5 separate regions of the Homo sapiens genome follow, and regions 2, 3, 4 and 5 are each reported to be linked to region 1. Evidence: microRNA targets listed by miRTarBase, many of them from high-throughput screens and not tested one by one. Region 1 holds a microRNA gene; each other region holds the end of a gene's coding sequence. Distances are between the middles of the regions.

Evidence for each region. Region 1 holds the annotated microRNA hsa-miR-944 (AAAUUAUUGUACAUCGGAUGAG, at 1,328-1,349, opposite strand). A microRNA usually pairs through its seed, bases 2 to 8, with sites in the 3' UTR of a target mRNA and lowers its output. Matches are read on the target gene's strand: a 7mer-m8 pairs with bases 2 to 8, a 7mer-A1 pairs with bases 2 to 7 and ends in A, and an 8mer does both.
Region 2: the mRNA of SHOC2 is a reported target of hsa-miR-944. Seed matches in the 3' UTR shown: 7mer-A1 at 2,235-2,241 and 7mer-A1 at 2,255-2,261.
Region 3: the mRNA of MIX23 is a reported target of hsa-miR-944. Seed matches in the 3' UTR shown: 7mer-m8 at 727-733, 7mer-A1 at 737-743 and 7mer-m8 at 813-819.
Region 4: the mRNA of TSPAN13 is a reported target of hsa-miR-944. Seed matches in the 3' UTR shown: 7mer-A1 at 3,341-3,347 and 7mer-m8 at 2,946-2,952.
Region 5: the mRNA of BTBD3 is a reported target of hsa-miR-944. Seed matches in the 3' UTR shown: 7mer-m8 at 701-707, 7mer-m8 at 1,048-1,054 and 7mer-A1 at 2,904-2,910.

Annotation. Positions count from the first base shown.
Region 1 is chr3:189,827,324-189,831,323 of GRCh38, reverse strand. MIR944 (microRNA 944) reads right to left here and starts at 1,402; the gene lies at 1,315-1,402. All of the region lies in intron 4 of TP63 (tumor protein p63), which reads right to left.
Region 2 is chr10:111,011,027-111,015,372 of GRCh38, forward strand. SHOC2 (SHOC2 leucine rich repeat scaffold protein) reads left to right here. Exons shown (of 9, transcript NM_007373.4): 9 at 584-2,639. The coding sequence ends at 792. Among named protein-coding and RNA genes, the nearest start is that of MIR548E, 24 kb to the left of the region's middle.
Region 3 is chr3:122,356,079-122,360,424 of GRCh38, reverse strand. MIX23 (mitochondrial matrix import factor 23) reads left to right here. Exons shown (of 5, transcript NM_001017928.4): 5 at 506-834. The coding sequence ends at 556. Among named protein-coding and RNA genes, the nearest start is that of MIX23, 25 kb to the left of the region's middle. RefSeq lists a silencer at 1,816-2,016.
Region 4 is chr7:16,782,843-16,787,188 of GRCh38, reverse strand. TSPAN13 (tetraspanin 13) reads right to left here. Exons shown (of 6, transcript NM_014399.4): 6 at 2,653-3,772. The coding sequence ends at 3,698. Among named protein-coding and RNA genes, the nearest start is that of AGR2, 20 kb to the left of the region's middle.
Region 5 is chr20:11,923,436-11,927,781 of GRCh38, forward strand. BTBD3 (BTB domain containing 3) reads left to right here. Exons shown (of 4, transcript NM_014962.4): 4 at 1-3,160. The coding sequence ends at 231. Among named protein-coding and RNA genes, the nearest start is that of BTBD3-AS1, 7.0 kb to the left of the region's middle. RefSeq lists enhancers at 1,237-1,737, 1,738-2,238.

The sequences.
Region 1 (4,000 bases):
AAGTCAATCGATTAGACGGAAAATAAATAAGGATCAATAACCAACTCAAGTAGAAATATTTAAGAAAGAATGCAGGACCCAAGGAACCTCAAACAGCAGATTTCAATTAGGATCCTCCACATCAAAATTATAAGTGCTTTTGTTGTTGTCACAGATAGTGCAAGTCTGTTCTCACCTCATGAGACTCTGAACCCCTATGGGTTTTTATTTGAGGGGAAGTTGGCAGCATTGGCACTGGGAAGATAAACCACACCAACAACAGAAATACAGGCTGCCCTCGCAGTTACTACTTCTGGCCCATCTCATCCAGCAAAAGCTGGTAGAGGAACTTTGGTGTTTTTCCATTTCCCTAGTATTGTAGTGAGATAATTTTACACATTTGCAAACCTTAAATAATCCTACACAACTCCTTTGTGTTTAAATTGCCCTAGACCTTATAGGTGAGGTTTATTCTCCCTTTACATATTCATTCCCTTCTTCAAACAATATTTACTAAGTGTCTATATGCTCCCTTCCTCCTTCAAAGTCCCAAAGAAATTTAATAGTATCTTTATTTTTTCTTGCGTCACATATTAATTTTTCTGTTATGATAATTATGGGCCTTTATTTGTCTTCCCTGCCAAGAGACTATACATTTCTAAATGGAGACCTTACCTTATCCATCTTTTACTCAAGTGACAGGCATAATAAAACAACAGCAGCAGCAACAAAATTGCGTGTTATGTAAACAGAAATGATACTTGTGTAAAACAAGTAAATGAATATATTTGAGATAAGCATATCATTGTGGTTTGTGATGAAAACTCACTATGATGAAAGGAAAAGTGATGACTTTCAACTCCTGTTAGTAAACTGGAGGTTTTTCAGTCCAATAAAATTAATGCTGATATCCAATTTCCAATGGTTTCAGGATATACATTTTTTTTCAAATTTTATAGAATGAATTTTGTCTCTATCCCTTGCCATGAAAATCAGAGTTGCAGTAAGTCAAATTGAAGGTAGATGTGTTTTGTTTTGTTTTGTTTTTCAAACACACAAATTATCAATCTTTTGTATCAGGAACTCTGGCAGACTGTTACAACGGTAGCTCCTGACTACAATTTGTAAAGGTCTAGCTTTTTTCACTAGACAGATTCTCCTAGTCAGATCTCAAATCTGAACTCCAGATATACTTGAACTGTGTTTCTATAACCAACAGTCCAATGCTCTCTCACCAAAGCCCCATTCCCCATCCTATTCCAACCCTACTAAATGACCGTTGGCCTTTCTTTCCAGTGTTCAAGAAAATGAAGGTTACAGTGGAGCTAATACTTAATCCCAGACACAGCTCATCCGATGTACAATAATTTCTCTTTATACAATTTAAGAAAATATTGTATATCAGATGAGATGTGTCTGGAACATAAATACAAATTTACTGCAGAAAAATTGTTTATCTTGGTTGAAAAAAATTAAGGTTATATTGGTCTGGTAATGAAATAATTAAAAGGGCTAATATTTGAAAAAAACTGTCAGCAGTATAGAAATCTTTGAAACTGAATTTGTTAGTTGGTGAAAAAGTAATGGCAAAACCTGCAATTATTTTTGCACCAACCAAATAGTTAGAAGTGAAGTAAATTTTTATTTTTCTTTAAGAGCTCCAAACTTTCCAGAATCTTTTTCTCTTCTAAGTCCTCGCCAGACTCTAGGCTTTTAGTACCCTGCTCCTCCAAATCTAGTCTCTGCCCATTCCTTAGTTCCAAAGCTGTTTCCACATTTTCAGTGAAATAAACTTTCATAGAAGCCATTCCAAATACTTCCAGTTATAACTCTAAAATAACACGTGCTGTTCTCCAGCTCTTCCACTTCCTCCCCTAAGATCTGAGACAAATAATCCAGTAGACATATAGGGAAAGTAGATTTTCTAAGAATTGATAGTTGGATGCTAACTTGTTTACATGGGTCTAGTTTTCAGAATAAATGCTTAAAACTCATATTTAGTGTCAATTAGGGCAATCTCTGTAGTGTATTGCTCAGAAACAGCATGTTCAAGGCATGAAAGCAGGAAGAAACATTTAAATGATTTCCTGAATCCTCTTTTAAGATGGTTGGGTCTTGGGTCTGTAGACAGGTGATTTACAGAGTCTTCTCTCTTGGTCCAGCTCCTATAGTTAGATTTGGTAATATGGTATCTGCCAAGATTTTTGAATCCTTCTTTGGGTACCAGTAAAAATAAAAGTACTTTATTATCAGTAAATATCATCTGTAATAAATTTATGGTCTTTAGTACTCAGCAAAAAAGAACAAAGAGATTTTATAATTCTATTCACTGAACATTCACTGAGGACCAACCACGAGTCAAAGGCCAAATACATTTTCCTAGCTTCTGATTTTGTAAAATGGTACTGCTATTTATAATAATAGCATTCATTTCATTACGCTCAAAACACTGAAGTGAAAGATGCTTCCGTTTTCTTTAAGCTACTATTAGATTATTTTCATTCAGTAAAAGGACGAAAGTGTTAACTTCCATACCACGTTAAGAAATAGGAAAAAGATATCAAGATTTAGCTCAATATGTTTCTTTTACAGATAAGAAAACTGAAGCTCAAAGCAGCAAAACGGCCTAGCCAAAGCCATCAAGCCAATCATTGGCTATTTGGGCACATTTCTTCCTTCTTAAACCAATAAATTTTTTACCCAAACATTTCTAGTGCAAGGCAGAGACATAGAGAATATAAAATGTTCTTTTGTCTGACCAATTACAGGTATGTGGTTCTTCTCATAGTCAAAGCAGAAGGATAAATAGCCAAGACTAATCCTAACTAAAGAAAGCAAAGCATGGCACCAAAAAGGCCCCAAACCTTGAGGAATATATCATTCAACTAGTTTCTTGGTACAGTCCTTATAAGAAGTACCTCTAAAACCAATGTCTAGAAAATGTTACAATGGTAGGAGTCAAAATAATCCCAATTACGGAAAATAGGTTTCTATCTCTAAAATATATACTGCAAAACCACCCCAAACCCCACACTCACCTCCTTTCCCCTTTGCCTGCCCATATCTCCGTATCTCTCTCTCTTTTTTTTTTTTTTGCTTGTTTTGAGATGGAGTCTCGCTCTGTTGCCCAGGCTGGAGCACAGCGGCACGATCTCAGCTCACTGCAACCTCTGCCTCCTGGGTTCAAGCAATTATCCTGCCTCGGCTTCCCGAGTAGCTGGGACTACAGGCGCCCACCACCTAGCCCAGCTAATTTTTGTATTTTTAGTAGAGAAAGGGTTTCATCATATCAGCCAGGCTGGTCTTGAACTCCAGACCTCAGGTGATCCACCAGCCTCGGCCTCCCAAAGTGCTGGGATTACAGGCATGAGCCATTGCACCTGGCCCCCATATCTCTTATCTAAAATATTGCAACACCTTTCCAATTAGCCTCCCTGCTTTTAGTCTCCCTACCTCCAAACTGCTGCCAGTTAGCTTCCTCCAACAGAACATGATGTCATCTCCCAACTCACAGCCCTTCCATGTTTTCTTAACACTTGCAGGACTAGAGCCAAACTCCTTAGGGTGGTATTCACAGCCCATCTCAATCTGGCTCTGTGGACTTCTCTCTAGCCTCATTTCCTGCTACTCCTGTTCCTGCAAACTTTCTATGGTCCAGGTATACCAAACTGCTTCCCACTCCTAGACTTACATAACACATTCATGTCTCCATGCCTTTACTTACCCTGGTCCCTCTACCTGGAATATCTATTCTTATTTTTCCCAAGACTTTGCTTATCCTTGAAGGCCCAACTTTAAATGCAAAGTTTTCTGTGAAACTAGCAAAATCAGTTTTCTGTACTACATTCCACTTTGTTTAGGTAATAGGTATTACCTGAAAAATATTTGTTAAGACCCATTATATGTGCCAGCACTAAGACCCAGAGATGAAAGGTCAAAGCTACTGCCTCTGAACTCCTGAGTACGTGTCTGTAAGGGGGAGCTGGTGGGGGGTGGGTATCACAAGGCAAGTGTTCATCTA
Region 2 (4,346 bases), not on the chromosome of region 1:
ATTTTCCTAGAGAATACAAGTATCCTAAGAAAAAATTTTTAAAGGTCTACATAAGTCAGTTTTTGGCTTACTGCCATATATGTGATAACTCTTAGTGAAAGGTTCATATTAAGTAACAAATATTTTGCACATAAGAAATTTATTAATTTGAGAAAATGTTACATCTACAACAGAAAAGTGGTTATAGACATTGAATATATAATAAGCTCACCTTTGGAGTTTTAAAATATATATAAGTAAATGTTATATATGTGCCAAACTATCCCAAACAGAATCTCTGGAGATGGGGCATATGTATTTTCAAAAACCTCTCCAAGCTTGAAGACCTACCATAAAGGAGGAGGTTCTAATTTAGTTTGTATGAAGTGTGACCTGGACATATAGGAGTTTAAAAAGTCTTCCAAGTTGATTTGAATATGCAGCAAAATTTGAGATCCATGGTTGTAGAGTTTTAAAGCTAAGAAAGGAGAATAAAAGGAAATGTGTGTTCAGTATATGTAATGACCAGAACAGCATCATGCCCAGTTGAACTTTTAAAATAGCAACTAATTTTTAAAAAAAAATTGATTTTTTTTTTAAACAGGTACACTGGAGAACCTAGAAGAACTGTATTTGAATGACAACCCCAACCTGCATAGCCTTCCCTTTGAGCTGGCACTCTGCAGCAAGCTTTCAATCATGAGTATTGAGAACTGTCCACTCAGTCACCTTCCACCTCAGATTGTTGCTGGGGGGCCTTCTTTCATCATTCAGTTCTTAAAGATGCAGGGTCCATATCGTGCCATGGTCTGATATAAATCTGCTGGTCCCACACACTGTTCAAAAATAGACTGCCATTAATGTTTCTTATCTATATCTGTATCTATTTATGTAGATATTGGTATATGGCAGATTTATAAAAATTGCATTATGTGTTTCTGCTAATAGAGGAATCATAGCCATTTAGAATTTTTTTTAAATTCTGTACAAAAGGCTTATATAAGTTTTCTTTGCTGAATTTGATGGATGTTTTTCTGTTGTGTAATCTGATATGCCAGTTTGCTTAAAACATTTGCCAACACATTATGAAGTTATTAAATTTAAGGGACAGAGGTAGTATAGTTAGATATACTTTCTCTTAGGAAAAATAATGGGCAAAAATTTTTGTTGCAACTTTTCATATATATTTTCCCCTTACCAATTGTTTTATCCTTATAGTATTGTAGGCCCTGAAAGTAGAATTTTTCTTTAACTTATTTTGAGATTTGAGATTTAAATTTTATGTATTGTTTACAGTCAGAGTAAATCACTGGATTTCTTTTGTTTGTTTTGATTTGCTCTGTTTTATTCAGTCAAATCTAGAGTTTGAATCCTCTGCTAAAGAATTTGCATCCACTGGTGTAAACAGTGAAAGGTATTTGCTTGTTGAAAAAAAAAACTGGCAAAGTGAAAAGATACAGTCAAAAATCTAGAATTTCTTTAATTTTGCTTCTCTGACGAGTTGTGAAGCAAAATACCTGAAGTGAGTCTTTGGGTAGGGGAAGGGTATTGAGACCTTTTCTAGTATGAATATTTTTTAAGTTTGGGGGAAGAGAAACTTGCAGTGAAAAGGAGTTTTTTCATTCCTGAAAGTTGCAGATCCACAAAACTAACAGGATAATTGGGCAAATAAATTACATATAAACACACACAATCTATATATGTATATACAATGCTATATAGATATGTATTTATTATATCATAAACTACAGTAGGTAACTTTAAGGATTTCTTCCTATCCTTGTACAATGACATGAATGTCTTTCTTTGAAAACTGCAATGTATGTATGTTTCAAGGTTATTTAACAGTGTACTATGGTTTTATATCTTGACTTGCCTTGTACATCTTTCAATTCTGGAATATCTGTGTCTAAGCACAATATCTTCACACTGTGCTGTATTGCTGCTGAACTAAATGCACTTTTCCCCACATATGGGGCACTGGCTTCAAACAATTCAGTTCAGTATCATTACTTTTAATCTCATCTTTCCTTTCTTGGTAGTTGTTAATACAGTTATGGAAAAGAGGCACATTGCATAGAAGCCATTGGGGAGTTCAGTGGAAGTTCTGTAAGATGTGCATGTACTATTTGATGCGTTTTCTTTGCTTCACTGCTTTTAATACTTAGCAGTATTGTTGGTCTAAGTCAATTTGATTATTGAGGAGTCTCAGAGCAAGGTGCGTTCTAGATGTCATCCTAAAAAACACTTCATATATAATTAATCACTATTTTGTATAATTACATATTGCTGCTTGTGTGTTTTTTTTTTTTTCCATTTAGTTGGGCGTTGTGTTTTACACAAAACCATTTTTGAATTAAGGCTATGATATTAAGATAGAAATTTGGACTGTTGTTCTGCTTTTCCTGGCACTCAAATTCATGACTAGTTTTGAGGTCAAACCTATGTTCGTAATGAGAGATTTTATAAGGATCAACTAAGAAATGGAAGGCAGGTGAAGATATAAAACCCTAGAATGCTTAAATGTGCTGTAAAACTATTGTAGATGTCACTGGATTTTACCAAGTAATATCCTTTCTTTTTTTTTTCCCCCCATCTGCTGTGGCTTTTCAGTTAAAATTTTGTTTATAAAAGGAATTTGTTTATTACAGCTCTACCTAGAGCTTGTGTGTTTGTGTGGTTTTTTAAATCTCGTATCCAGGTGTGTTTATATATTAAGATGTTGGGACTTGAACTTTAAAGGTAGTAACTAAATGTCTTTTCTTAAAAAAAATGGTTATTGTTTCTTAAAATGAAAATATGGTTTTTAAAGCATTTTTGTTCCACCTTTATGTTAATCTGTAACAGTAATGTAAAACGATCAGTCTTACATGTAGAAGTCATGCTGTGTGTAAACAATATAATGACAAGTTATAAAAAATTTTAAAGAAGTATAAAATGTATATCCTCTGTAGGCTGTCACCTTGTGAGAGCCCACAAATTTCATTATTTCCCAAGAAACTAAAATGGACTCTGATTAAGATATCCCTGTGAAATCAAGATATTTAATATTTAAATAGTTTGAATATAATAAGGGATATTGTTGAAGACTACATATGAGCTAATACTTTTTCCTGAAACTGCAATGGGACTAATTGGCATATCCAAAAATTTTCCTTTCCTTTAAAGAAATTATATTTAGTCTCTCCATGAGACTCAGCAAATAAAATAAGAATGTCCGAGGATGTTACATTATAAAAACATTGCTCTAAACTTTGCTTTTTGTTAATATGTAGCAGAAAAATGGCAATGGTAATGCCAAGCTGTCCTTTTCTGAGTTTAATACTTTCTAAATCCCACATGATTATTTTATACAGAAAGGAGGAAGTGCTAAATAATTTATGAACTTTATAGATACAAGTGAAAACAGTAGATGATACAGGAAGGGAAAATACACATAAAACATTTATTTGTACTTAAAATGTAGGTATTGCAATGGGAATGATCTCTAAAAAATGTAATTGCAAATTTCTAATTTATCTAATTGTGTAGCTTGAATCATTTAAAATAGATAAGTTATTATACATTAAAATTTATCTAGATTTTCTGTAAATTTTTGTTATAACCTTTTGCTTTTCATCTGTTACTTCCTTTTTTTTTTTCCTTTTTTTTTTTGAAACAGAGTCTCGTTCTGTCACCCAGGCTGGAGTGCAGTGGCGTGATCTCAGCTCACTGCAACTTCCGCCTCCCGGGTTCAAGCGATTCTCCTGCCTCAGCCTCCAAAGTAGCTGGGACTATAGGTGCCTGCCACCACGGCCAGCTAATTTTTCGTATTTTTAGTAGAGATGAGGTTTTACCTTGTTAACCAGGATGGTCTTAATCTCCTGACCTCGTGGTCCGCCCACCTCAGCCTCTGAAAGTGCTGGGATTACAGGTGTGAGCCACCACGCCCAGCCTCATCTGTTATTGCTAAGCCATGTGTATTGAATCCAAATTTCACCTTGCAGAATTTATAATTGTTTATTAATAGGAATGTATAGTAACTAAGTATATAAAAGTAGACACTTCTGAAATGAAAAGGGGGCACTACCAATAGTTATATAGGGCCAACAGCACAACATTGGTCTCAGGAAATCAGAATATATGATCACTCTTGCATGATTAAAATTAGATAAAAGTGGATAGCATAATTCAAAATAAACTGGAGAAGTATACATTCCTGAAATCTATAAACTTTAAAATGAATTACTTGTGAGGAAAGATCTCCTTCTGCCTTGATCAGAGGATAAGATAGTGTATCAGATGTCTTAGCTAAAACTTATCTCTTGCCTTATTCTTTTGAGTAGTTTAGTCTTTAGGAGTCATTGGGAAACGCATGGCAATCTTTA
Region 3 (4,346 bases), 67 Mb from region 1:
TACTATTCACACTTTTTTTTCCCTTGATAATCTTGGAGATCTTTTTAAATCAGAACATAAATTATTTTTAACCTTGCATGTATTCCATTGAATAACCATACCAAATTTTTATTTAACACAGTTCCATGTGGACATTTAGTTATTGAGCATTCTTTATTTAACTTATTTTAGATATTTTTGTGTTGTTGTTTAAAAAATGTCCAGAATATGAAATTGAAATGTTTGCTAGTAACTAAATTACCTGGCTCTTGATGATTTTTTCCCGAAGTAACTTAAATTTTATTAAAATACTAGAATTGTCTTGTAAATGGATGTCAAGGCCTTCTGTGCATTTGGCACCTCATAAGTCAGTTTGAACTGCTGAGGAAACTCTTCTGTTTCCTAAATCTGTTGACTTAGGACAAAAATGGTAATAGCCTTTTGGAGCCTACTAAATTGAATTTAGTTCCAGGCCTGATTTACGCAGGATAACTCAATGACTTTTGTTTCTGTTTCAATATTTTAGGTGTTTAATGAACGCTGCCGAATTCACTTCAAGCCTCCAAAGAATGAATAAAGAGAGATTCTTTTTTTTTTTTTTTTTTTTTTTTTTTTAAGGACTGGGTCATCTCATAAGAGCTAAGCATGACAGATATCAACAGGGCGGGCTTTCTAGGATGATTTCTGAGCCAACAGTCCAAGACCTTTTGTTGATTTCAGCCCCACTTAGCCAAGACCTCAAGTATAAATAATTCTGATAATTATGGAGAAATCAACTGCTATTTTATACTGATTCTGTAAAAAAAAAAAAAAAAAATTTTTGTAACTATTAAAATAATTTTCTGACTCAGTGTACATATTTATTTGATTGTTTTCTATGTTGAGACAGTTCTCTTTTTATTTATTTATTGAATTTTTAGTTTCTATTTTTTTAATATCCTGTCAGGTTGCAAGACAGTTCTCATAAGATAATTTGCATGCACTTTCAATATCTGATTTGTAGTGTATTTTTTAATTTTTATAAATTTATTGGCATGGATGTGGACCTTTTTGGTTATTGATAAGTTTATTCCTTGATTTATCTTTGTGGGTTGATTATAAAAGGGCAGTATTATAAGCTGGACAATGCCCAAAGAAGTTTTCTTTTAGTACCTTAACTGATCTTATTTTCAGATATAAAAACTAATTTTTGGTGGAATTCTTTCCTGGACAGTATTTCCATGGTCATGGAAAAGGAAAGCAGAAATTCAGGAAAGGGAAGAGCAGGGAAGAGCTTGCATGACAGCAAATGAGTTAGTAACAAACCTGCTGTAATTACAGGATTTGGTCCTTGCAAAAAAAACCACTTTCTAGTGTATGGAGTGGTTATGTTACTAGTTTTCTGTTGCTGCTTAACAAATTACCACAAACAGTATCTTACAGTTCTGTAGGCCAGATGGGCAGATTTGACTGGAATTTTTTTTGTTTAGGGTCTCAAAGCTGAAATCAAGCTGAGTCCCAGGCTGGGCTTTGGTCTGGAGTCTAGGGGAAGAGTCTGCTGCTAAGCTCATTGAGTTGCCAGATTGTTGCATCGTGGTCCTGAGGTCCCCATTTCCTTGCTGACTGTCAGGTACCACTCTCAGCTCCAGGAAGCTACCCACATTTCTTGACACATGGCTCCTTCCATCTTTAAGCTGGGCGTGGTGCATTCAGTTCTTCTCATACTTGGAATCTATCTGACTTCCCTTTCTGCTACAAACCAGACAAAATGATTTTAAAGGGCTTGTGTGATTAGGCCTACCACATCTTTTTGCTTGACTCAAAGTCAACTGATGAGAATCATAATTACATCTGTAAATCTCTTGCCAGATTATGTAATAACCACAGACACCAAGTTTCATGGTCTGAGGGATATCTTGGGGAGCCAATTTAGGACTCTGCCCACCACAGTGATTTAAACAAGCCACCTGGCTCTGGCCCAGTTAGATTAGCCAGCTGGGTCTCTGGTGGGCCTGTGTACATTGACCACCATCAGATTATGCATTTGGAAATGAGTGATAAAGATATAAAGTGCCCACCATTCTTTCAACAAAACGTAGAGCACTTACTGTAGGTCAGACACTTTTTGTGGAGATTATAATCTAGTCTCAACAAAAATTTCCTAGAGGTCTGCAGTAAAAAATGCCTTTATATATAAAGTTGAGTAAGTAATTTTTGGGTAGATAAGTGAGTTGAAAGGATGGATGCAAGAATAGAAAGACAAAGATCTCCCTGATTCTGCTGCTCAGGAGGGAATTCAGATCCTTGGAAAGGATTCATTAACAGTCTTTCCAGATTTTCAGGTCTGCCAAAATACCATCTAGCTAATCCAATTATGTTAGTAGAGTGCCTGAATCATTCCAGTGTAACATATGAAAAATGTGCAATGACGGCAGCATGGAGTGACAGTATAAATGAATAGGTTTAGTGTGATGAATGGCATTTAGAGCCTCAACTAATGAAGGAAGATGGATGACATTGCTTTTGAAAGTTGATTTGCCTGCTGGAAAAGGGTCCTGTGTGTAATTACTGCCTTAGAACAATTTGTTGATTTGCTTTTGTTGCCTGAAAGGTAGGATTCAGCAACTCACACACACAGAAAAGAAGTAGAAGGTGCGAAAATTCACAGATGAGTTTGGCCCTTCCTTGGCAGAACAGAAGACAGCCATACGAAGAAACACCTATGATGATACATTTGCAAATTCTTTTAACAAATATTTAAATGCCTTCCTGGGCACTATTAACCACTATTGTTGCATCACTCAGCAAAACAAAAATACCTGGTTTTAAAGAGCTTATATTTGGTGAAGGAAGACAGTAGTAAGTTATATGGTATGCTAAAATGTGATAAAGTTCTATGAAAAAAAATAGAGAAGGAAATCAGGAATGGGATGGAGAGTGGGTTGCAAATGACTGTTTTCAGCTGACTGGAAAATATAATGCCCTTGTCTTTGAAAAGTTGCTTTAACTTGAGATTGAAATGTACCAAGTAAGTGCAGTAATAAAAAGGGTGTTTTCTAATATGTCATTCTTTTATAAGTTGTTCTCCGAACTACATGTGGTGGTTCATGTCTGCAATCCCAGTACTTTGGGAGGCTGAGTCGGAAGGATCAAGAGCCCAGGAGTTCGAGACCAGCCCAGGCAACACAGTGAGACCCAGTCTCTTAAAAAAAATTTTTAAATGGTGCTTGTCTGTAGTTCCAGCTACTCATGAGGCTGAGACGGGAAGATCTCTTGAACCCAGGAGGTTGAGGCTCCAGTGAACTATGATTGTGCCACTGCCTTCCAGCCTTGGTGGCAGAGCAAGATCCTGTTTTAATAATAAGTTGTACACTGAAGATACCAGTTTGGGAAATGTAGTGATAATGTACCCAGTGCTGCTATAGTAGTCCCTGCTAATGTGCCAGTGTCCAGGAGTGATAAACTTGTCATCTTGTAAAATGGGAGATTAATCAAATGTGTGAGCCCTTTTTAAATCAAGAAAAATGAACATTCTATCTAGAGTTAGGTGATCTAATCAAACATATTAGAGATTACTTAGGTTACTCATGATTTCTGTGTGTATTTAGGCTTGTAGAGTACCCTTGATGAACTTGATTGACCCTTAAAAAAGAATCTTTATTATTGAGCATAAACATTGAAGAATAAAGAAGATAGAAAGTGACCACTCCTGATTGGGGTAGCATTTCCAGGACAAGCCTGATTTTATCCCACAGAATTACGTTGGGAAGGAAATTCCCAACCTCTAAAGAGGTTTAGACAAACATGGCTTCCAGCTTCTGAATGCAATGGCCAGCTGGGGGCACCCCTGTCCAAGGGAAGAGGACTTGGCTGAGGTGCATTTGTGTATCTCCTGGTGCATTAAGAAGGGATAGGTAATCTACTGGCACTTAAAGATAATTGCTGTGATTGAATGATTTTCCCACTCCAGTTTTAAAAACCAGCAAGCAAAATTTCTCCTGCTTAAAAGCCCCCAGTGGCTGGCCGGGCGCAGTGGCTTACGCCTGTAATCCCAGCACTTTGGGAGGCCAAGGTGGGTGGATCACTTGAGGTCAGGAGTTCAAGACCAGCCTGGCCAACATGGTGAAACCCAGTCTCTACTAAAAATACAAAAATTAGCTGGGCGTGGTGGCGGGCGCCTGTAATCCAAGCTACTCAGAGGGCTGAGGCAGGAGAATTGCTTAAACCCAGGAGGTGGAGGTTGCAGTGAGCTGAGATTGCGCCACTGCACTCCAGCCTGGGCGACAGATTTTTGACAGATTTGAGACTCTGTCTCAAAAAAAAAAAAAAAAAGCACCCCCAGTGGCTTCTTAGTGCCTTGAAGACAGGTACAAATTCCTTAAAGTGGC
Region 4 (4,346 bases), not on the chromosome of region 1:
ACATATATTTTAACTCACAGGCCTCAAATCCTCATTTGAAAATGAATTCCAAAAGCTGGTTTTCCTAAGGAGAGTGATGAGAATTGGCCTGCCACATGGCAGAGTTTGATTTTCCCCTTTCTCATATTTTCAAGAGGTATTTCAATGACTACAATTGCTCAGTTATGACATTTAAGAAAAACATCCACATGACAAGCCCCGTTCCCTTCTCTCCCTCTCCTCTTCTCGTGGAGTGGAGGTGTTGGGGAAAGGGTGGATTGCACTCTTAAATTTATTTAGAACACATTCACTAACACATATTGTAATTTCATTTGGCACAGAAAGCCTGGTCTAAAAATTATTTTAGTCCAAAACGTACCAAATACAGAACAAAACTTTACACCAATCCCTTCACTTATCCAGAACCCTGGAAAAGCTGGTTTTTAACTTTATTGTCATCTCTAATAAAACAATTCACACATGAATGATCATGTCTGTACAACCACAGTGACTAAAAGTGTTTTTCTCCTATGAAATACTATGGAAAAATTTGATTCTAACTTTTTTAGTACCAGCTAAAAATTGAAACAGTTTGACGTATTTAGTGTATTTGCAAAATAATGAATAAACTTTAACAGAGTTAAACAAATATTTAGAAAAATTGTAGGAGGAGGTTTTGGCTCAAGGAAACGAAGAACTAAAAGCCACACTTCTGGTTTCCTTTCCTTCTATGAAAGGTTCCATTCAGCAGCATGTAACTTAGGTTGAACATGCGAAACTGGTTTTCATACCAAACACATTGTTGCTTAGATAACAGAGTATCTGAGATGAATTTAAGCTACAACAAGCTCAGATTTTAGAAATTATAGCTGAACTCTTTCTTCCTTTGTATTAGTATTATATTCTCTATATAAAATTTAACCCTTAACATCAAGGCTGACCGGGCAAATGTGCCAAAAAACATTCCTATAAATGGAATGTGCAAATAGAGAAGAGATTTTTTTAAGCAGCACAGTTCCTTTTTAAAGAAATGCTAGGTTTGGGAAGAAAGGACATCTAGGGTCTACCCTGATCTGAAACTCATCCTCCTCTGACACTACGTGTTTATGGCAGCATTTCTGTGCCCTTGGGCAGTGGCCCTCTCTAATCCTGGGATCAGGATGACCTTTGCAGGATCATAGCAGGGCCATCTGGGATTCAGGACTGACTTATTCAGAGGGTTTTCCACTAAATATGCACCCCGACACAAAGATCCCAGGAAGCATCACAGAAGGTGTTAGGTAATCTATCACCTTCAGATCTGCCAGAGAAAACAGAAAGCCCAGACTCATTTGACAAGGACAACCTTGGTGCTTGAAAATGTGTATTTCTTGAGTGGCTAACTGTCATTACCCACTCTTATAATCCCATAGTTTAGTAGTCCTAAATATTCATACTTCCCAGACCCTGGCTTTCTTTTTCATTAACTTATTTTACTAAAATCTTAACATCTTAGATATCTTTACATTTTGTTTTATTTAATATTTAGATATACATGTTTTTCTTAGCCATAATGATTTAAAATCCTAATTTAATGAACTCAATTTCATGAAGCCTTGAGCACGATTAAATGCATTTTGTCAGCACCAGGCTACTTTCAAAAATGTGTTTAGACTTCTCACCCTGACAGCTGTTCTCTTTGCACTTTGCTTTTTAAGTAACACACTTGAGGAAGGCTGACATCAGTCAATCTATATTTGAACAGAAGAAGAGACCTTCCTTTGTTAGAATTTCCAGGATGCATCATTTAACTTCAGCATGAAGCATACTGTGTTGACCCAAATAAGGGCACTGCAATTAGAGCACAAACCAAGGTAAGGGCTGATTCTCTATGGAATAGCCTTTCCACATATAATCATTTGTACCAAGGAAAGTATTACATTAGGAGATTCCAGGGCCTTATAATAATTTCAAAATGTAACAAAACAAACATGGAAAATGCCAAATGCCTTAAAGGAAGACAGAATTTTAAAACTTCCCACCTCGATGGCAGGTTAATAGGTGCAGCAAACCCCCATGGCACATGTGTACCTGTGTAACAACAACCTGCACATTCTGCATTTGTATCACAGAACTTAAAGTATAATAATAAAAAATAATAATAAAATCTCCCTTCATATGTCACTTATAATCCCATCTTATGGTATAAGTGGGGACACTGTTAGGGCTACCCCAGAGCTCATAGGACATTGTGAAAATGGCACAATTCTGTTTCCTTGGAAAATTAGCTAGTGTTGCAAAGTCACGGAAGTGACAAACCTACAAAATGCTCTAAAACTCTACAGATCAACCATTTACCCTCTCTCGGTCTAAAAACCTAGTAAGACAATAAAATACCACATGCTACCTAGAATGTAAAACAAGAAATTAATAATTTTTCGTAATGGGAAAGAACGTATATATTTTTCCCAAATAAATATTAATGGCTTCTCTTTTTAGAAAAACTTTTTCTCACCATGGAGATAATATTAGCCACTGAAACATTTCAAGAAAGGATTTGAGGATGACTACCAATAGACATTAATGCTGGAAATTTATTTCCACAGCTTGATTATACACTAAAATAGCAATACCCAGCTCTAAGTCCAACAGAGAGAAGCTAAAGCAGAAAGAAAAGAATTCCACCTCACTTAATTCATCGATCAATTCTTCCATTACTTTCTTTTAATTCAAACATGCATACACAAAGAAAGGTTTCTGTCCTTTAATTTTTTAACAGAATATACAGAGCCACACAATACGATTTCAATTTCAAATTATGGGAGATCATATTCAAATATGCTTAGGTTTGACAAGTTGCTGTTACAATACTGAGAAATTTCATGAAAACGGTATTTAACAATTTTTAAGATAATCAAATATCTTTTTGCTACGTGGGCCAACGCATTAATACTAACTTGTTTAAAAATGCAGTCTTTTAGACTTCAAATTATTATAAAACAATATCAAGATCATATAGATATACTTCCTGATTACTCAAAACTCGTTCCATTCTGATGGAGGCTGAAGGTAAATGTTATTATACATTAGAACATTTCATGAAACCACTTCTCCTTTGCACTTACCTGTAAAAGTCAAAAATTAAACCACAATTTCCTAAGACATAACTATTTCTAGAATACATTGGTGTAATCATAAAAGACTACAAGTAAATTATCATTTTTATACTAACACTTTTTACCACAACAATCTTTCCTAAAAAGACCAAAAAAAATTGGGAATTTGGATTTCCCTTAACATAACAGGATCTCATACTTTCTGATTTTAATAAATTTCCACTCTTTTTCCAGTAGGAACTATCTACACAGCACAGTGCTACATATAATTATACCAGTGAGATGTACGTTCAGATTCACCATATAACCAACACAGTGGTACCATACAAAGTTTTTCTGCAGGTAAAAATGCTAAGAAAGGCCACAGTGGACAGTGCCCGACAATGAATACAGTAAATTCCAGGTGCCACCGAGCTTCAGAGACCACAAGTTTCAAATATTTTTCAGCAACGGAAAGAAAAAAACATGTAGAGAAACATAGAGTAAAAATATATAATTCCACTATCAATAAGGTACTTTTCCAGATAGTGTTTCCTTCCTTAAACTGGCAAATGGAGCTTAACAGAAAATTACAGAAAGTGAACAAGATCATAATACGAAAGGAAATCTTCCTTGTTTTCTCATCAAAGGAATGCACTAGGATTCGCGCGGGGGTCTTTCTGGTTCCTGTATCTGTAGGTCAGCCAAACACCCAGGATCTGGAATGGGGAAAAAAAAATAAAGTAAAGAAAAAGAAAGTAACATTTATGTATATTTATTCAGTTGATCAATAAAATAACTTTGGACCCTCTCAATCGCTTTGCATCTTTTGTTCAACGGGGAGAGATTTTTTTTCTTTTTGAAATGAAGTAAACCAAATGACGGGCGCTGAGAAAAAATTAAAACGAACACTGTGGTAAACTGAATGACTGGCCCTGAAGGATGTCCATGTCCTAACCCCTACGACCTGCAAATATGTTACCTTACACAGTAACAGGGACTTTGCGGGTGTGGTTAAGGGTCTCAAGATAAAGAGATTATTACCCAGGTGGGCTCAATGATATAATCACAGGGGGACACATATGACGGAGGCAGGAAGGACAGAGTCAGAAACATGGAGAGAAGACACCGTGATGGCAGAAGTAAAGGGAAATAGAAAGAGAAGCTGCAACTCTCCTAGCTTTGAAGATGTAAAAGGAGGGCTGGTGAGCCTGGCCTCCAGAAGGTACCTTTATTTTAAACTTTTGATCTCCAAAACTGTAAGACAATAAGTTTGTGTTGTGTTAAGCAACT
Region 5 (4,346 bases), not on the chromosome of region 1:
TCCAGCAATACCTTTCCCGTATGGTTTGAATACCCAGTGCAGATCGAGCCAGACACCTTCTACACAGCCAGTGTGATACTGGATGGCAATGAACTCAGCTACTTTGGACAAGAAGGCATGACAGAAGTTCAGTGTGGCAAAGTGACTGTCCAGTTTCAGTGCTCCTCAGATAGCACCAATGGCACTGGGGTACAGGGAGGGCAGATCCCTGAACTTATATTCTATGCTTGAAAACTCACTTCCTGAAGCAGCTTGAGCTCCAAAGTGCACATCTGGTTCCAACTTGCCTGATGCTTAGCTCATCTGCAAATATGTGATCAGTGCCGGTAATTTGTAATGAATGAAGCGGTAGGCAGGTTCTAATTTCTTTTAACCTTTTAATTATGTACAGGCAAAAATGCAGCATTCCGCTTTTAACTATCTGCTTAAAAGAGCTAACGTTCTTATTAAGGCTTTGTGGTTTTTAGAGTTGCATCTATGAACCTGGGGAGATTATGTGCTTTCCCAAGCGTTCCACCACCCTCTCAGTTTTGTCCCTCTGAAGATAATTTTGGATCACCTTGAATTTCCTTTTGGACGTTATTTGATGAACAGAAATAAAGTGATAACAAGAGTTATTTTTAAACAGAACTCCTCTTACCCCCCAAAACAGATAAACCTCAGTGTACAATTTTGAAAGAAGTTTTGCCTTGTAATGAGTAATAATTTAGAAAGTAGACAGTGGTTGTGTTTGGCTCTCGTTTTATTCCTTTTACATTTGTTGCTTCTGGGATTTAAAAAATTACTAAATTCATAAGATAGTTAGGTATTAAACACTTCAGAATATCAATGTAAAATTGGAAAATAAGGAACTGGGGGCATTTGTTTAGGCCATGACTTCTACAAGCAGATTTCTTTTCTTTTAGTTTAGAAGACAAAAAATTTCAATACAGATACTTCTTTTAGAAGTAAATTTTTAGATTTTATTGTCAGTAGAAAAAAGTTAAACTCCTACTAATTTAAACTAAGACAGTTTAAAAAGGAAGCCTGAAAAAGACTCATACTACAAATAATTTAATTGATGGCATATAAGAATATGCAGTTTGAAAAAGCCAAACTCTTCTCTCCACTTAGCTTTTGATCCCCACTGTTTGCTTATTTGTATAAGTCATACTGTGTAGAATTTCTATTTTCTTTTTCCCCATTAAAAGAGGACCAAACAATTCTTTATACAAATGGAGTAGCAACTAGTTTTGTAGCACTACATTTAATGTAATGAGATACCTTTGTTCATTTTTTTAAATTTGAAATATACTTTACCTGATCCACTTTGATTGTATACTATATTCTTTGTTAATTTTAATTTTGTCCTGTTCCTAGACTGCTAGAATCTGGCCCCTGGCCATCTTAAAGTGCCAACATATGCCTGCAGGGTTTATAAAAAATGGCCTGGAGTGACACATTTTATTATACCTAATATTCACTGCATCAGTATCACATCTAGCTCCCTTACTTGTCCACAGATAATGTAAACAAAGGAGGGAAAAACTTATTAAATTCTCCTTCGCTGCTGGCTTGTGCTGGTTTAGTGCCTGTGTCCCTGGCAGTGTCCAGTGTGTTCACTTCCAGTTGAAGTATCCATGTGTTTCTGGGCAGCTTTTCTGCTCAGTGTGATCCTGAGATGGCTTCCCCGCCGCCACCCAGAGTGTGGTCCTTGGCCGCCTCCTGCTCCTGCTCTGCAAGCCTGAAACTGGCTTGTCTGGAGCCAGGAGTTAGTCCTGGGGTGTGTGTGTGCCTGCGCACCCATGCGCATGCAAGTGTGTTTGCCAGCTCAGGAGCTGTCTCCTCTCTACCTGGCTAGTAAGAGGTGGGACAGTAATGGTCCTCCTGCTGGCCCCAGCAAGGCCCATGAGTGACTGCCCTGACGTATTCACTGTGCCTCTGGGCCACTTCTTCCCCTGTAGATGTGGGCTTGTTGCCTTCAGCCGGCTTCCCTGAGGGAGGAGAACACTGGATTATTGGAAATGTTTTAATCACTCTTGCCATTACCTACATCTATTAGCATAGATGATGAAAAGCTGTTACTGGTGATTATAGATGAGTATTTCCAGGACAACGTTCTAAAAGTACAATTATTTCTTATTGGGGAGATTACAGGTAGTTTGGCAAAGCATTGAAGTACAAAGGTACATTTTCAATTAAAAAGCACACTTCTACAAAAGATTTGGTTTTTAAATTATGGTTACACATTTCAGTAACTCATAGCTGCTGTGCAAATTGGTAGACCTTATAAGAAGGCACTTGTTTGTAAGCCAGAGAAGAAACTTTAATTGCATCCTATCAGATTGTTGAGGTGGGTGTGATAGTCTTCAGGTGCAGTGCGTTCATTCACTAACGCTCACTGTCAGTGCCCATGTTTGCTAGCTGCCTCCATGTGACTAGTGAGCTGCTGGTGAAAGTCGTGTGAAATCCTGTACACTGTGTATAGAATAATGTAATTTTATGTTAATTGTTATTACTTTAAAACATATCTACCATCTGATTGGCTGGTACCGAGAGCTGTGGGTAAAATTTGAAAATTGTATTTAGAATAAGAAATTTTACATTTTAAACCCTATTGTCCTTTATGCATTTTCAATGAAATGGAATGAAGGCTAATATGCTTGCTTTATTTACTTTTGTAATCTTGGATTTTGTAGCTTTTAAAACTAGAAACCATTGTTCTAACAAAGCAGGCAACTTTATTCTATAAACACAACTTTATTAAGCAGAATACACTGTAGATGCTTTTCCCCAACGTATCTGGCTGGCAGTCTTTGTCGTTGTTCATTCTGGGGATAAAGGGGAACTAGGCTAGCAGTTCTAATGTGACATTCTTTAAGCATATCTTAAAATAGTATTTAAGTAAATGGTCTAATTTCTACATAATTATTGCACTGAACTTTTTTGTTTATTAAGGTGTTTAAATAAGCTCAGCTAATTCAAGACACTGTAGCCACTTGTGCATCAGTGTGCTTGAATTTAGTAGCTTACAGCATTATTTATGAAGGAAAAAATACATAAATATGAAGTACCTCATGTTGAATGTTATTGTACTGTATTTTTAATGTAACAGTGCAGATCTTGTTAGACACATGAATGTGTATAATCATGTTAAATGCAAATAAAACTAGTTCATAGATTTGTTTTCCTTTAGTGCTTTTGTCACACCCTTGAGATAGTAAAAAATTCATGCTGGCACTTTTGATGCCCACTACGTTTTGCAGAGATGGTTTCGCAGAGGCATTTGTTAGCTAAGTGTTCAGATATCTTTGATCCCTAAAGAAGTAAAAATTTGAGGCAAAAGGATAACAGAACAATGAATGTGTTAATCACTTGCATTGTTCAAAGCCTGACTGTTAATGAGAGGGAATGAATGGATGCATTTATATTTCTATTATGGAATTCGTGGTTGGCCGGTATTCTGAAGCTATAGTTGCTCAAATGTCTGGATCTTCCTGTGCTAAGGGGGGTGTTGATACTGAATGACATCTGGCTTCTGATATGACCAATGCTGCTTTTTCCTTTGTTACAGTAGCTTAAGTCTAGGAATTTAAAAAATGGCACGTAAGAATTTTGAATATAGTTTTTATGTGCTCAACTAGTTTTCCATTATATTTCTTTATATCAAGTATTTATATACACACATCCACATAATCATACATAATTATGAACATACACTTCTTTTTTCTGCAGTTTCTGATGCTTTTCTACTGCAGTTTAGTGTGAAACCCTGTATATTTGCTTAACCGCTTCATCTACTCGGGATTCAGTTTCCATAGCATACTTGCCCAGAGGAGTTTTGGAATTACTCCAAAGAACAAAGGCACTGGAACTCCCCACTCTCATCAGTTTAATCACAGTTACAACCTGAGTTGTAAGATCTTTAATCCCGGAATGCCTTAGCCATTATCTCATCTTTGTTGCCACTTAATCCATATATGTTTATTTTCATTATTCCAAGACAATTGGGAACGATCCTCCTTCATTGTTGGGACTTGGGATCTACGTGTCGAGGAAAGTACACTGTCTTCTCAGTCGACTCTATAACTTGCCTGTGAAAGCCATGGGCTTACACTTGGAAGAAAACAGGAAGGAGAAAAGCATTTCTGAGGACCTAAACGGTATAAAATGTGGAGGCCAAAACAAGCAAGTTGCCCTGAAAACCTGTGGTTAAGTGTTTATTAGAGCAGGGTTTTGAGTGCCTTTGAGGTGCTTCGGTGAAGATGAACACACTTTGTGGATTCCTCGTTAGTACATTTCAACATTTTTATGGAGCCATTTACATTTATTGACCAACTATTCCCTTTGCTCTACACTTCCCTTAT